Regions from separate parts of the Homo sapiens genome. Here region 1 is linked to region 2. Evidence: fine-mapped expression QTL. Tissue or cell type: T cells. Region 2 holds a variant in brackets; the other region holds the start of a gene. All regions are shown on one strand. Distances are between the middles of the regions.

The links. PIP is the estimated chance that this variant, and not a neighbour inherited with it, causes the effect.
Region 1: it holds the start of FRMD4B, and the variant in region 2 is fine-mapped to the expression of FRMD4B in T cells (TOPMed, PIP 0.98).

Annotation. Positions count from the first base shown.
Region 1 is chr3:69,381,596-69,389,703 of GRCh38, forward strand. It overlaps FRMD4B (FERM domain containing 4B), which reads right to left and starts at 4,493. Exons shown (of 23, transcript NM_015123.3): 1 at 4,233-4,493. The coding sequence starts at 4,394. RefSeq lists an enhancer at 3,960-4,570.
Region 2 is chr3:69,235,200-69,243,307 of GRCh38, forward strand. The region is part of intron 7 of FRMD4B (FERM domain containing 4B); the gene reads right to left. Among named protein-coding and RNA genes, the nearest start is that of LMOD3, 120 kb to the left of the region's middle. RefSeq lists enhancers at 1-328, 329-828. The variant T/C (reference allele first, on the strand shown) is at 4,962.

The sequences.
Region 1 (8,108 bases), 150 kb after region 2:
GCCTGAAAGCTGAGCAGTGCAGTGGAACAATCCCCTCTCTGATTTAGAATTCACAATTATGGGATAGCAAAGGGGTAATCTTATGATAAGCCCCTTAACTCAAATTCCTGTGGCAAAATACATACAAAGGTATTTGAGCATTAATCTTTGTACTTATCTTGAAAAATAGCTAATATTTTTATGTAAAGAGCACTAGATTTGATATTCTAATGATGCAGTGAACATTGTTGGTTGCATTTCAGCCAAACATTTTGCCTTTCCTCCCTGGCAGCTCTGTGGTCTGAGTAGGGCCAACCTCAATCCTAGGTTCAGAAATGGGTCCCTTCCCCTCTAGCCTCAGCAAATCAATGCAATCCAGTGTTTCTTAACCTTTTAATTCATTGTTATCTGCTTAAGGAGCCTTTTTAGATTTTTGTTTGTTTGTCACCCCTCCTATTTTATTTCATTTTATTTATTTATTTTGAGACAGAGTCTCACTCTGTTGCCCAGGTTGGAGTGCAGTGGTGTGATCATGGCTTACTGCAAACTCCATCTCCCAGGTTTAAGTGATTCTCATGCCTCAGCCTCCCGAGTAGCTAGGATTACAGGCATGTGCCACCATGCCTGGCTAATTTTTGTATTTTTAGTAGAGATGGCGTTTTGCCATGTTGGCCAGGCTGGTCTCGAACTCGTAAGCTCAAGTGATCCACTCGCCTCAGCCTCCCAAAGTGCTGGGATTACAGGCATGAATCACCACACTCAGCTACTTTTTGTATTTTTAGTAGAGACGGGGTCTTGCCATGTTGGCCACGCTGGTCTTGAACTCCTGACCTCAAGTGATCTGCTCACCTTGGCCTCCCAAAGTGCTGGGATTAGAGGTGTGAGCCACTGCACCCAGCCCAATCCCTCCCATTTTAATGTCACAGATATGCTGTATTTCTGTTTATATATTGCATGTATATTCGTGCTTTATAAATAAAAGTAGTGAATTTTTTTCCCACCCCCCTCCTCCAAAACAATTTTTGCCTCCTTTGGGCCATTTCACTCTCATTGAGAATGCATAAATTGTCATCCCATACTCTGTGCCAATCAGTGCATGGCATCAGGAGTGGGTACAGACCCTAAATTGGAGTTCCAGCATGTAAACTGGGACTTTTTTTTTTTTTTTTTTGATAGTTGGAGGATATGAGAAATTCTTTCTTTCTGGATGTGTGGATATAAGGCCTGAAACTGCTGTGATTATCTGCTATTGTGAGGGAAGAAACCAGCTGAAGATAAAGCCAACACATCAGCAAGACCAGGTCTGAAAGCATGGTACCCTGATCAAACAATACCTAAAGTTCATTCTACTGCTAGACTTTTCAGCTGTGACAAAAGTCATTTCTTTTTACTCTGTAGGCAAGTTTGAATTGGGTTTTCTATTATAATAAAAAAAATCCTAACTCATGGAAAAGATAACATTTATTGGATGCTTTCTAAACTCCAGGCAGCGTGCTAAATATCTCACGTCAATTAATTCTTTTATCAATCTCTGTGATTAGTACTATTAATTTCTCATTTTATAAATGATGAAGCTGAAGTATAGTAAGATTAACTTACCCACGGTCATACATAGGCAAAGACTGGATTAACTCCCTTGTCTATTTAACTTGCAGTTACTGTCTTTTAGTTCTACACAATTAAGTCACTACTTTTTCACTTAATATTTGAAAAGCATTAAAAAATGATCTTCCTTTGCAAAGGATTATGTTGCACAATTAAGAATATTCAAAGGCTGAAAATATTTTTGAAAATCTTATTTTTGCAAAAGCACAGGAAATATTAAACTTAGAGATCATTTTCTTCTGATTCTGTATTCATAAAAGCCTTTGTTATTTATTTTCATTGATACATATTAGATGTACATAGTTCGGGGGTACATGTGATAATGTGACACATTCATATAATCAAAGCAGGGTTATTGGGATAGCCAATGCTTTAAATATTTTAATTAATTAATTTTTTAGAGGAGGTCTCCCTCTGTCACTTAGGCTGAAGTGCAGTGGGACAATTATGGCTCACTGCAGCATTGAACTCCTGGGCTCAAGTGATCCTCCTGCCTCAACGTCTTGAGCAGAGAGAACCACAGGTTCATGACGCTATACCTGGCTGATTTTTAAATTTTTTGTAGAGATGGGGTCTCACTATGTTGCTCAGACTGGTCTTGAACTCCTGGGCTCAAGTGATCCTCTCACTTCAGCCTCCCAAAATGTTGGGATTACAGGCATGAGCCATGGTGCCCAACCGTTATCTTTTCTTCGTGCTAGAAACATTCAAATTATTCTCTTCTAGTTATTTTGAAATGTACAATTGATTAAAGTTAAAAATAAGGAGTGGGGACTTATTTTTTTTTTATTTTTTATTTTTTTAAGAGATGGGTCTCACTATGTTGCCCGGGCTGGCCTCAAACTCCTGGGCTCAAGGGATCTTCCTGCCTCAGCCTTCTGAGTAGCTGGGATTATAGACACACAGCACACTGCCTGACTACCACCATTATTTTAGATGTTCTTATCAATTATGATATGGTATTGGCTCAGTCACCATCCATTTTAGAGAAAAGAAAAAAATACATATATTTTAGTAGCTCAGTGTCTCAAATTGCTATTCTGCATAAAAATTATCAGTCAACCTTATAAAGAATCCATAAGGTCTCAGGTTTCTGGAATCTTTATTTTTGAATTGGTCAGTAACAGTATTACAGATAAGCCATAAATCCTCTGAATCCTTGGGGAGTGAGGCACAGAGTCACTCTGGTTGGCTACAATATTTGCGTTCCCTTTTTGAAAGTTTCTCAAACACTAAAAAGGAAAAACAAAATTACATAAGGGGCACTTATTCTACAGACCAAACTGAACAGGGATTTCCCAAGAGAGGAAAAAAAAGGCTTGAAAGACAGACACACTTCTGGCTCCAAAAAGCCAGAGAGCTATGTAATGTGGCCAGATGGGATATATCCACAATTCCCTAATACTCTCAAACTCCCACATGCTGCCCTGGTTCCCAACCTGCCTTTCAGATTCCATTTCAAAATGCAAGATATCACAGATATGTTATACAAAGCAGAAGCAGTGAAAGCACAAGTTCAAATGTTCCTCATATTTTAACAAGGGTGACAAGGGGACGCTGACTCTTTAGACTTCCACAGGCTAACCTTAGGTGCTGGCCTTTTCATTTTGCCTGATTGATGGAAGATTATGGTTTGTCAAAATCAAGTGCTTGATCATGTATGAGACACAATATAATAAGACATAAATTCTAGACATATTAGGAACAGGGTCAAATGGGGGGAAATCCAGGAACTGCAACAAAGCTATTCCACATCACAGGAAAGAAAATATGATATTATCTTTCCACAGTAGACACCAAGTATATTTCTAAACAATGCAGATTTTTAAAAATCTCAAATATATTAACAACCAAAGCACAGAACTTTTAAATTCATAAATTACTGTCTAAAAAAAAAAAAAGAAATCCAGGCAAACTGCAGTACCAGAGAGGATGAATGGTCTCCTAGTTGAGCAAAGTTGCTGCATTTTTTGCCTGCAGGATGGGACCGAGCAGAGAAATAAAGGGGCTGTGTTGTGTGACAGGGAGTAAATCCTAACATGAGCATTCCAACGTGTAGCCGGGCCACCCCTCCCTTCCCCAGCCTGTCATCCTCCTGCAAAGTGTTCACAATTTGCTGTCCTTCCTTCCAAAAGCCAGTAGACACAGAATCAGCTTTTCCTGGCTCTGCCTTACAAGTTGGGGCTGCCTGATGGAAAACTGAAAATCCAACGGAAGGATAAAAATCCACCAAGGCCCCCTCTGCCAGCAAATTGGTGTGAAACCGTTGCTTCAGAAGCAGCCACTCCCACCCCCAATGAAATTAAAAAGAAGGACTCATTTGAATGTCTAAGTGGCTTTCTGAAGACCCTCTGTTGCAAAGCAACAGCCTCCCTAGTCAAGCGCCCGCCAGTACACCATTGCTCTGTAACAGATGTCTGCAAACGCTGGGACTATCTCGCAAGTGCCCCCCATGCCCGATTTGAAAAATTCACAAGCTCTGTCAAGCAATAATTACCTAGAGCTGCTGAGCGTTTGACCCAAGGGCCAAGCAGTCTGCTAGGAGTTTAAGAAGAGCTGGGGGGAATAAAATCATACAGGTGGAGCCTGCTTCCCACGAGTGCCCGGCATCCTGCTGGGGCCCTCGGGTGCCGCGCGCTCCAGCTCACCTGGTACACGTCCTGCAGCCCGCACCACGTCCGCAGCACCTGGTGGCAAGCCCGCAGCCTCTCCGTGTACCATCTCCGCAGCGTGGACACGGTCAAGTTCCATACGAAGCGGCTGCCGCTGAACAGCAGGTCCTCCACGCCACACATGAACACCGAAGCCATGCCTCCTCCTTCGCTCTGAACCCGGGCGTCCCGGCTCTCGTACGTGCAGCCCCGACCCCAGCGGCCTGCCCGCCTGGGCTCCCGACGCCGGCTTCTGCTGGCAGCCGGGGGGTCAAGCCTGCCACCAAACTCGTCTTTCACCGTGCGTCCTGGCCAGGCTCCGGCGGCATGCCCTGGGATTGGGTGCCCGCCAGCCAACGGCTGCGACTGGCACACAGAAGCCCAGTGTCCACCCCCGCCCGCTCGCAGCGCCGAGCAAGCTGTGCTAAGCTCCACCAAGCTGGCCCTCGATGCTCCCGGGGCACGGGAAGCCCTGGCCGGCGAGGACTCCCCCTGGCGCTTCCCCAGGGCGCGGGGCAGGGACGGAAGCGGAGCAACTCTTTGCAGGCAGAGAGGGGAGCTGCATTTCAGCACACTTGGCTTCCACGTCTTGCGCGCGCGCGAACACACACACACACAGACACACACCCCCCACACCGGACGAGTGGTCTCCTAATCTGCCTCGGGGAACACCTTACTCATCTTGCTCTGTTCACACTGATAAAACACCTCTGGGCAGCCACAGATGCAGAAGAGAGAGAGAGAAAAAAAAAAATCTCCAAGGCATCCCTTTGGACCCTACTCCTGGGGGAATAGCCACGAATGTTTCCTTGGTTCTGCTGGAAGCAGGAGATGAAGGCAACAGTCTCAAAGCAACAGGCGGCCCTAGAACCTGCCTTTGCTCCTAACTTGAGGGTCTCAGAGAAAATGACAGCCTCCTGTGGTTGCCAGCAGGAAGGCAGGTTTCCTCACACCAAGATGCTGCTAATACCAATGCAGCAGTCAGGGAGAAAAACAGAGTTCTTGGTCCCTTGTAAATAGCTTGCCGTTACTAGTGCTGGGAAACAGAAGCCCATAAGAGAATCGGTGGTTTAGTTCTGGAAAATTCAGCCTCTGGACATGTCTAACCTCACCTGCAAGCACCAACCTGCATGGGTAGTTTATTCTCCCCTCAAAACCAAAGGAAACTGTTCCACCACTCATGAAGTCACTAGATAATTAATCTTATTTATTTATTTATTAAAGTTTTCCCTCGGGAATTGATGCTGATTGTTGGAAACATTTGGAAAAGGGAGCTCAAGGAGTCTCGCCTACCACCAGTCTCTGTCTTCCTTTATTTATTTTTGAGACAAGGTCTGTTGCCCAGGCTGGAGAGCAGTGACTCAATCATAGCTCACAGCTGCCTTGAACTCCTGGGATGAAGTGATCCATCTTCCCACCTCAGCCACGGGGACTACAGGTGCTAAGTTTATTATCATTATTTTTTTTGTAGAGATGGGGTCTCACTATGTCGCCCAGGCTGGTTTCAAATGCCTGGGCTCAAGCAATCTTCCAGCCTCAGCCTCCCAAAGTGCTAGCGTTACAGACATGACCCATTGTGCCCAGCCTCCATTTTCCCTTAGAATGTATGAAGATTTCTCATAGCAAAAGTGCTGTAGCAAATTTCAGGATGGAGTTTTTTCCTGAATCCATCTGTAAGTCAATTGTCTGTATTTTCTTGGCTGTTTCACATCTGGGTTGTTATCTATGCTATTAAGTGGCACCAAAAGGAAAGGTAAGGCACCAAAGCTTTTCTCCTGAACTAGCCCAGAAGACTCCAGAACAGATTATCGACAAGTAAATCAGCTTGATTTCAGGTATCAAATGTGCTTTTATAATCTTAATTCAGGTGAAACTCAATCAGTCAAAAGACGAAGAACACAAAATCTGTCCTCAAAGTGCCTGTTGTTTTCAGTGACTGTAATCAGAAAACTTTTAAATGAGATTTCTTTCGTTAATAAAATTGCCCAAGAGTTTTTGTTGAATTAGTTAATAGGACACAAGACTTGGTCCAAGATTTGCAAACCTTTCTTCACAATAAGTCTTCTCTATGTGCCATCAGTATTAGTATTGATGGTTTTTTTTTCAAGATGATGGTAACGATGAATCTGAATATAATAGATTTTACTGAATCAAAAGAAAATGAACTTAGCTTGAAAAAGAACTGTCATCATGCTGAATGGAAAACTACTGAACTTCAAAAATGCCCTATTAGTACGAGCAAATGGTGGTGGTACTTTTTTTTTTTAAACGATGCAGTTCGACTGTGTTCTCGGAAATGTCAGGCAGCCAAGGGAATACCAGAATAAAACCTACAACAGGTCAATTACCTCTGTCTCATGACACCATCCTCTCAGAAGAGAGGCTCTAGAAACACTCTGGCTGTTAGCTATCTGTGCGTAGGTCTAATGTCAGCAGTCACTTTCAAATTCCATCATTTTCATTCAAGGTTTCCAAAGTCAGGGCAATTTTTTAGAAGATAGGATGTAGTATAATAGGGGCTCTCAAAGTGTGGTCACTGGGCCAGCAGCTTTAGCATCACCTGGGAATTTGCTAGAGATGCAAGCTCTCAGGCAGCCCTGGAATCAGAAATTGTTGGGGGGTGAGATCAGCGATCAGAGCTTTCAGTTGGCCTCTGGAGGATTCCGACTCATGCTAAAATTAGAGAACTACAATAGTGATAGTATGGTGATTAGGAGCTAAATCTTCTAAAAGAGACCCACCCAACTTCAGATCTCCTCTCCTCAGGACCCGTGAGACCCCATATAAGCTCCTTAAGTCAACAAAGTCTCAATGTCCTCATGTGTACAATGTATTATCAGTATTCACTACAAAAAGTTTGGGGAAAATTAAGTAAAATATTCTGTATAAGGTCTTTAGCACGGTGTCTGGTGAAGGGTAAGCATCCAAAGAAAACTAATCACCATAACCCCCCGAATCAAGAATTGCTTCAGTTTTTTGTAGTCAGATAAAACAGTATAAGTAAAATGTGGGTTTTTAAAATGATAGATTTAGTGAGTATAAGTGCAGTGTTGTTATATGGATATATTGCATTGTGGCGAAGTCTGGGCTTTGAGTGTAGCCATCACAAGAATAGTGTACATTGTACCTATTAAGTTATTTCTCATCCTTCATCCCCTCCCACCCTCTGACCCTCCCCAGTCTCCATTGTCTCTTAGTCTACTTTTTTTTTTTTTTTTTTTGAAACGTAGTCTCCCTCTGTCGCCCAGGCTGGAGTGCAGTGGCACCATCTCAGTTCACTGCAACCTCCGCCTCCCGGGTTCAAGTGATTCTCCTGCTTCAGCCTCCCGAGTAGCTGGAATTACAAGTGCACAACACCACGCCAGGCTAATTTTTGTATTTTTACTAGAGATGGGGTTTCAGCATGTTGGCCAGCTGGTCTCGAACTCCTGAACTCGTGATCCTCCCCCCTCGGCCTCCCAAGGTGCTGGGATTACAGGCGTGAGCCACTGTGCCAAGCCTTCTTAGTCCACTCTCTATGTCCCTGTGTACATATTATAAAATGTGTTTTTAAATTTCAACTAGTTACCTACATGTGCTTTCCTATGACTTTCTGTTTGCTGAAGGTGAAAGTTTGTGGCAACTTGTTTTCAGGGAGCAGTTCTGTTGCTCTTTCAAGTTCCCAAAAAGCTTTTTGAGCTTGATCTTCCCCACTAGAGGCAACTTGTCCCGTGGACTCAGAGAAGCTGGGTGCAAGACAGAAGACATCTTATTTCTACTGACATAAACACTGATGCTTTTTTTCTTATCCAAATGGCTTTCCTCTTTTGTAGAAGAAGTTCGAAGGTCAAGACTGAGTGATTTTAGAGGGAAGGAAATACAACTTCCTCCACT
Region 2 (8,108 bases):
TTTTCAAGAAAGAAACTGTAATCAACTCCTTAAATTGTAGAGATGGTCAGGGAGCCTGAGCAAAGCTTTTGGGTGGACAGCTCAGGTTTGTTTTAGGAGACTCTAGCAAGTGACCTGACCTAGCAGTGACAAAACATGAGTGCTGTCATCTAATCCCCCAAAAGAAATACTTCTAAAGGGCCAGGCGCAGTGACTCATGCCTGTAATCCCAGCACTTTGGGAGGCAGAGGTGGGTGGATCACCTGAGGTCAAGAGTTCAAGACCAGCCTGGCTTTGAGGTGAAACCCTGTCTCTACTAAAAATACAAAAATCAGCTGGGTGTGGTGGTGGGTGCCTGTAATCCTAGCTACTCAGGAGGCTGACGCAGAAGAATCGCTTGAGCCTGGGAGGCGGAGGTTGCAGTGAGCCCAGACCATGCCACTGTACTCCAGCCTGGACAACAGAGTGAGACTCCATATCAAATTAAAAAAAAGAAAGGAAAAAAAAAAAGAAATACTTCTAAGGGACAACAGCTCTTTCACTGGGTATTACCAGGTGGCAGAGAGTGGGCTAACCCCTTTCTCTACAGGCATATTATGCTATTAACATCAGTGTCCCTATTTCATGGATATGAAAACAGAGTTAAGGGAGATTAAGCAATTTAAACTCACAAAGCAAATACGACTCCAAACCTGTGCTTTAACAACTTTGCCTTACTCCTCCAGGATTCTAGGAAGAGGGGACAGGAAATAGGGAAGGAGCAGAGGAAAGATTTTAACTTTGAGGCTTCAGCATTTATCATTATGGTAGCCACTGATTAATTCCACCAAAATATGTATTGCTTAGGTGATGACAGTCTGCGTTTTTAAACTAGATCAAACTGGATTAACCACATCAAGGATCTGAACATAGATAACAAGACTTAATGTGTTAGCAGTGTTTCTTGAACCACACCAAACCAGAACAAACCAAACAAAAACCATAGCCTAGTTGTCCCTTAGTAGTGAGGACACCAAATTTAGGGTTTTATTGTTGTTGTTATTGTTTTGGTTTTTTTTTTTTTTTTCCGAGATGGAGTCTCGCTCTGTTGCCCAGGCTGGAGTGCAGTGGCACAATCTCAGCTCACTGCAAGCTCCGCCTCCTGGGTTCAACAGATCCTCCTGCCTCAGCCTCCTGAGTAGCTGGGACTATAGGCACCTGCCACGATGCCCGGGTAATTTTTATATGTTTAGTAGAGATGGAGTTTCACCATGTTGGCCAGGCTGGTCTGGAACTCCTGACCTCAAATGATCCGCCCGCCTTGGCCTCCCAAAGTGCTGGGATTACATGCATGAGCCACCGTGCCCGGCCCCAAATTTGGTTTTTGAAAAACACTTTTACATGAGCTGCAAAACCAGACTCCAGTCATTTTCGGCAGAACCTTAAAACAGGGAGTTGCAAACTGCTACAGGTGAGAAGTCCAATATATCAATTAAAGCTCCTTAAACCACACAAGGTATTCCTGAAGCCCCACTTTTTATACTGATTCAAAAAGCTCAGAGTAAGATCTCTACCCTGGATGAGTTATCTCTGTTACTGTTAGGGTATACTAAGGCCTGGGATGGGATGAAGAAAAGAAGAAACAAGCTGACACTTTCATTCACAGTCAATCATATGCAAAAGCAGAAAGCTAGAGCTCAAGTTCACTCAATGCCTAATGCCACTCCTGATTATTGCAAGTTAGTTCCGAAAAACTGATTACAGACTGAGCTAACTGCATAACAGCTAAAAGAAAGAGCCCTCTTCACTTTCTACCCACCCAGACTAAACTTAAAAGAGAGCAGCTCCACCTAGCCGGGTAAGCGAGGTGAATTCATTTGGTCCAACCCCTAAATGCACAGATGAGAGAAACAAGACCCACTGAAGTTTGAAAACTTACCAAAGTTCCCACAGTAGGTGGCAACAGATCTAAAGGACCAGAGGTTTGTTCTCTGGACAACTGCAGGCCGGAGCACAAGAGGAGGAAGAGGAGAGAATTGGAAAGCTAGGGAGGAACGGAAGAGGAGGGAGGGGCCGGGAAAGGAAACACCCAGCTGGCTGTGCCAGCCCTTGCTCTCCTCCCCTCCTAAGCCACAGGGTCTTTCATTTTTGGAATTTCCTCCCTACCTTTAAACCTTTCTTGATTTAAACCTTTCTTGATCAGACCTTAAACCAAGTCAGGTTGCAGCTATTTACAGAGTGAAAAGTGAGAACTGAAAGAATTATATAAGCCTTTCTCCTGGCCTCTGGCCAAATCTAGGGATGCCTCCCACTGTTTCTGTGAGAGGTGGGAAGTTGTTGGCCCATCCTTCATCCTAAGAAGCTCCTTCACAGGGCTACAGGTGTGAGCATGCAAAGAAGGCCTTCATGGGGGTTTAGGTGTGAGCATGCATTTCTAGGCTTCATGCATTTCTAGCGCCTTCATGGGGGTTCAGGTGCGAGCATGCATTTCTACACCATCTCTGGTCCCCAGCTTCCTCAGACCTCTCAGCTTCTCTTTCATAGGATGATAAAAGATATTCTTTGGGCTTTTATTTATGTACTCATTTACTGAGACAGAGTCTCGCTCTGTCATCCAGGCTAGAGTGCAGTGGCGCGATCTCGGCTGACTGCAACCTCTGCCTCCTGGGTTCAAGTGATTCTCCTGCCTCAGCCTCCTAAGTAGCTGGGATTACAGGCACGCACCACCATGCTCGGCTCATTTTTTGTATTTTTACTAGAGACAGGGTTTCACCATGTTGCCCAGGTTGGCCTCAAACTCCTGAGCTCAGGCAATCGGCCGGCGTTGGCCTCCTAAAGTGCCAGGATTACAGGCGTGAGCCACAGCGCCCATCCACTTTGGGCTCTTAAGGTGGCCATCCTAGGCACTTGCTATGTGTGACAAGTGCCTAGGATGCATTTTACTTACACAAACTCATTTAGTCTTCATGGCACCCAAGATGTTGGTGCTCTAATTTACAGATAAGGAAACTGAGATTTAGAAAGATCACCTAGCTGCCCATCATTTTACTAGAGCTAGTACACAGGCAGCCAGTACATACCTAGGAAAAAATCAAAAATACCAACCAACCAATCAGCTCTAGGCCTATGATTTGCAGTAATACGGTTTGGCCTTTAGAACTGCATTCAGTCCCAGGTCTCTCTGTTCCTAGGAGTTTTGTGGTCTTAGATAAACTAACCTTTGTGAGCCTGCATTTCCATATTATAAAAATACAAATAGTGACCTGTTGCATAGGATTCTTGGGTATATTACAATAGAATGCAATGAAGGCACTTGCCTATGTTCAATAAATGTGTTCCTTCCTGGCCAGGTGTGGTAGCTCACGCCTGTAATCCAGGCACTTTGGGAGACTGAGGTGGGCAAACTGCTTGAGCCCAGGAGTTTGAGATCAGCCTAGGCAACACAGTGAAATCTCATCTCTATGGAAAATACAAAAATTAATCAGACGTGGGGTACACACCTGTAGTCCCAGCTACTCGGGAGGCTGAGATGGGAAGGTCACTTATGCCCAGGGGGCACGTGATCTGCAGTGATCCATGATCATGCCACTGCACTCCAGCCAGGATAACAGAGAAAAATCCTGCCTCAAAACAACAACAACAAAAATGTTCCTTCCTTTCTGAAGGTAGCATAATAAACCAAAGATTTTACCAAACACTTTATTCCTACCACTCTCTGCCCAGGCTGGTGGTCGATTATTACTATTGAGAAGAATCCTAAAGGGGTGATCTGGGTTAGAGTTGGCAGATTTAATATATTGGACATACTTATACTAAAAAATTGCTCGTTGTTCATCTGAAATTCCAATTTAACTGGGCGTCCTATATTTTTATTTGCTAAATCTGGCAACTCTAAGGGCTTATAATAAACTGCCTGGGAAAAGAACTTTGAAAGTAACTTGCCAAGTTCCGAGTTGTGAGCAGTTTGGGGCTTGGTTTGACAGAGTCTATTGGCAACCAGTGGAAGCTCAGCCTAGAAACTCACTTTTCCAACATCATGACTGATCCACAGGATTGGTGTCAGCCTTTTATTTTCTCAGCATTCTACCAAAGATGCATCCTGTAGCAGGAAACCTGCTTGTGTTCTGGGAAGTGCAGTGTCCTCTCAGCTAGAATTCCTTTGTCATTACATTTTTGTCTGTGGCCTAACTTGTAACAGGGGACAATTACTCTGCCCATCTGCATGCTTGATGGGGATCAACTGTCAAGCTATTTGTTTTTAGGTCTAAGGAATTTCTAATGAGAATGAAAATGTGATGAAAGATTTTTCTAAACGTCAGCCAGCTCCCTGAGGACTCCGATCATGTCTACTTTGAACCTTTAACTCTCTTAATAATGGGTAGAAGAAATATCATCCATAAGAATGACTTAGGTTGGGAAGCAGGTTAACATGAAAATCTACAAATATTTAAAATAAAAATATTTTATTTCTCTCCTGTTAAATTCATAGAGACAGAAAGTAGAATGGTGGTGGCCATGGACTGCGGGAGGAGTGAATAGGGAGCTGTTTAATGGGTGCAGAGTTTCTGTTTTTCCAAGATGAAAAAGTTCTGGAGATTGGCCGTACAACATAAACACGTCCAGGCGTGGTGGCTCACGCCTGTAATCCCAGTACTTTGGGAAGCTGAGGCGGGTGGATTGCCTCAAGAGTTCGAGACCAGCCTGGCCAACATGGTGAAACCTTGTCTCTACTAAAAATACAAAAAATTAGCCAGGTGTGGTGGTGCGTGCCTGTAATCCCAGCTATTCAGGAGGCTGAGGCAGGAGAATCGCTTGAACCCAAGAGGCGGAGGTTGCAGTGAGCCGAAATCATGCCACTTGCACTCCAGCCTGGGCGACAGAGCAAGACTCTGTCTCAAACACACACACACACACACACACCCAACATAAACATTACTTAACACTACCAAACTCTATTCTTAAAAATGGTTGAGATGATAAATTTTATGTATATTTTACTACAA[T/C]TTAAAAAAATTTATTCTTAAATCTAGAGTTAGAAAAAGGATACATAGGCCAGGCATGATGGCTCATGCCTGTAATTTTGGGAGGCCGAGGAGGGTGGAACCCAAGGTCAGAAGATCGAGACCATTCTGGCTAACATGGTGAAAACCCATCTCTACTAAAAATACAAAAAATTAGTCGGGCGTGGTGGCATGTGCCTGTAGTCCCAGCTACTTGGGAGGCTGAGGCAGGAGAATTGCTTGAACCCGGGAGGCGGAGGTTGCAGTGAGCCAAGATAGCGCCACTGCACACTCCAGCCTGGACGACAGAGCAAGACTCTGTCTCAAAAAAAAAAAAAAAAAAAAAAAAGAACACGTAAAAGAAAAACAATCAATGCAGATAATGTTTTCCTACAAAAGAATGGAAAGTCAAAGAAATGTGTTTCTCTTCTGGGAAACTTCCTACTAGACAAGTGAAAAATTATTTATGGTCAACTTGAAGCCCCAACTCTTTAATCCTTCTTCCTGTATGTGTGATTCAATGTGTCTTTCCTGATCACACAAAAAAATGGATTAACCGCATTAGCCATCTGAACACAGATAAGAAGACTGTATTGTTATGTGTTATGTTATCACTTAGTGTGTTTCCAGAAACAAACCAAAAGGCCTGGAAATGCTTATCAGCGGGGGAATGTAGAATTCTCCCTCAACAATGTCGTCTCACAGCTCCTGTAGACTCTGGATGGTTTGCACTTTGAGAAGTGGAAGTAGTTCATGTCATGCTACTTTCTATTCCTACCGAATGCCACGCATGCCTGTGTCTCAGCCAGCCGCTACCTGAAGAGGCCAAGTATGCTGAGTTTCATTTCAGGACCAAGTAGCTATGATGGGTGTAACGGCCTGGTCCACTCCAGTGGAGAAAGAAACTGAGAACTCAAATGGGTCAAGAGAGTTACTTCCTGTATAGGACTGATCCTATGTGGTGTTAGTAACTGTCTAAAGATGTATTAAGGTGGGACTTAGGGTTTTTGTGTTCATTTAGTTGCATCAGGTTTTTTTAAGCTGTGAAATGCAAGGGGTTTTGAAATGCAAAATACTTAAGCTGTGAAATGCAGAAGCCTGACTCCTACTCTGATTCTATGGTTCATAGAGTAGAGTGTGTGGTCCAGCAAGAGGCTGAAATAAGAGTGGAAAATGCTGCTTATGTGTCCCCTTCTGGGAGATTCATAGCGCTCATGAGCAGATTGAAAACTTAGCCAAGAGAACTTGGGAAACTTTGTTTAACTTTTAACCAAGTATTGTAGAGAGGAAAATCACTTCTCAAGAGTTTTCACAAAAGTGTTTTGTTGATTCATCAAAGGCCCGACCTGAAATAAGACAAAAACGTTTCATTTCTGTCAAGTAAGCCTTCTTTATTCTGCTGGCCAGGAAGGTAATGATTCTAACAAATTTGTGTTGGGATACAAAAAAAGAAACTGGTTGGGTGCAGTCGCTCACACCTGTAATCCCAGCACTCTTGGGAAGCCGAGGCTGACAGATTTTCTGAGATTCAGGCGCTTGAGACCAGTCTGGCCAACAAGGTAAAACCCCGTCTCTACTAAAAATTAAAAAATTAGCCAGGCATGGTGGCTAATTTCAAGAAGAATTGCTTGAACCCAGGAGGCGGAGTTTGCAGTGAGCTGCGATTGCACCACTGCACTCCAGCCTGGGCAACACAGCGAGGATCCATCTCAAAAAAACAAAACAAAACAAAACAAAACAAAAAAACCCCCAAAAAACAAAAAAGGAAACCTCTAACAGTGGTAAAATGCATGTGGTTTGGAGCCCTAATTTGCCACTCTCTAGCTATGTGACCTAAATAGTAAGCTACTTAACAGCTACAAATCTCAGTTTTCCTATCTATAACATGGGGACAATGACAGTGCCATCAAAGGGTTGCTGTGAGGATTAAACATATTAATAATAGTAACGATGGCAAATATTGTTTATTGAGACAAAGAAATGGTTCCAGAGAGGCTAGGCAAACTACCCACAGGTACATAACAAGTGGCTGGGCCTGGATTTGAACCCAGGCAGTTAAATTCCAAAACTCCTCTCTTCACTACAGCCTTCCCATTGATTCCAGTGGGTACTCAGCATAGCGCCTTGCCCATGGGAGATGATATTTTTATTATTATCATTGACGGTAAAGACTCTGGAAATGAAATTAGATTTTAGAGCTTTAAGTGCTCCAGAGGTGTAATAACTAAGGGGCAAATTTCTTGAAAGTGTTTTTATCCTCCCTTCCTTAACTACTCTCCAGGGCATCCAAAGAAATTCCTTTCCCATGGGAAATAGCTGCATTTTTTTTTTTTTTTTTTTTTTTTTTTTTTTTTTTTTTTTTTTTTGTAGCACAGCTGTAACTTGTGAATATTCCCTTCCCACTTGAAGCTGGGTGTTAATATACTCTCATTCTGACCCAGCACTGAATTGCAAAATGTAGTCACTCACTTTTTCTTACAAGTAGAAGCACCCTAATCACATAGTTACTTGGTAATTTTCACCTCTCAAAATCTTAGGAAAAAAAAAAAAAGGCCGGGCTCGTTGCTCACCTGTAATCTGTAATCCCAGCACTTTGGGAGGCCGAGGATGGTGGATCATGAGGTCAGGAGTTCAACACCAGCCTGGCCAACATGGTGAAACCCCGTCTCTACTAAAAAATACAAAAATTAGCCGGGCGTGGTGGTGGGCACATGTAATCCCAGTTACTCGGGAGGCTGAGGCAGGAGAATCGCTTGAACCCGGATAGCAGAGGGTGCAGTGAGCCGAGATCGCACTACTGCACTCCAGCCTGGGCAACGAGAGTGAAACTCTGTCTCAAAAAAAAAAAAAAAAAAGCTTTGCTTTTACAAACTCATTTGTGGCTGGCAGCTGGGTGATAAAGCCTTGCCTCCTTGCCGTGTCAGCTTTCAGGAATTCTCTGTTTGTCTGTGTTGTGTTACCCAAGTAGCCTGTTATCTTTGCGGTTTAAGGGCTGACTTGGAAATTCAGACTGTCATCTATTTAAAGAAAATGGAAGTCCCCACTCCACTATTTTAATTAACTTTCAGAGAGCAGGGTTTCCTACTGGTTATGATAATGTTAACTTAAAATACTCTGAAGGGAACACGGCAGGAAACAAAATAAAAAGGG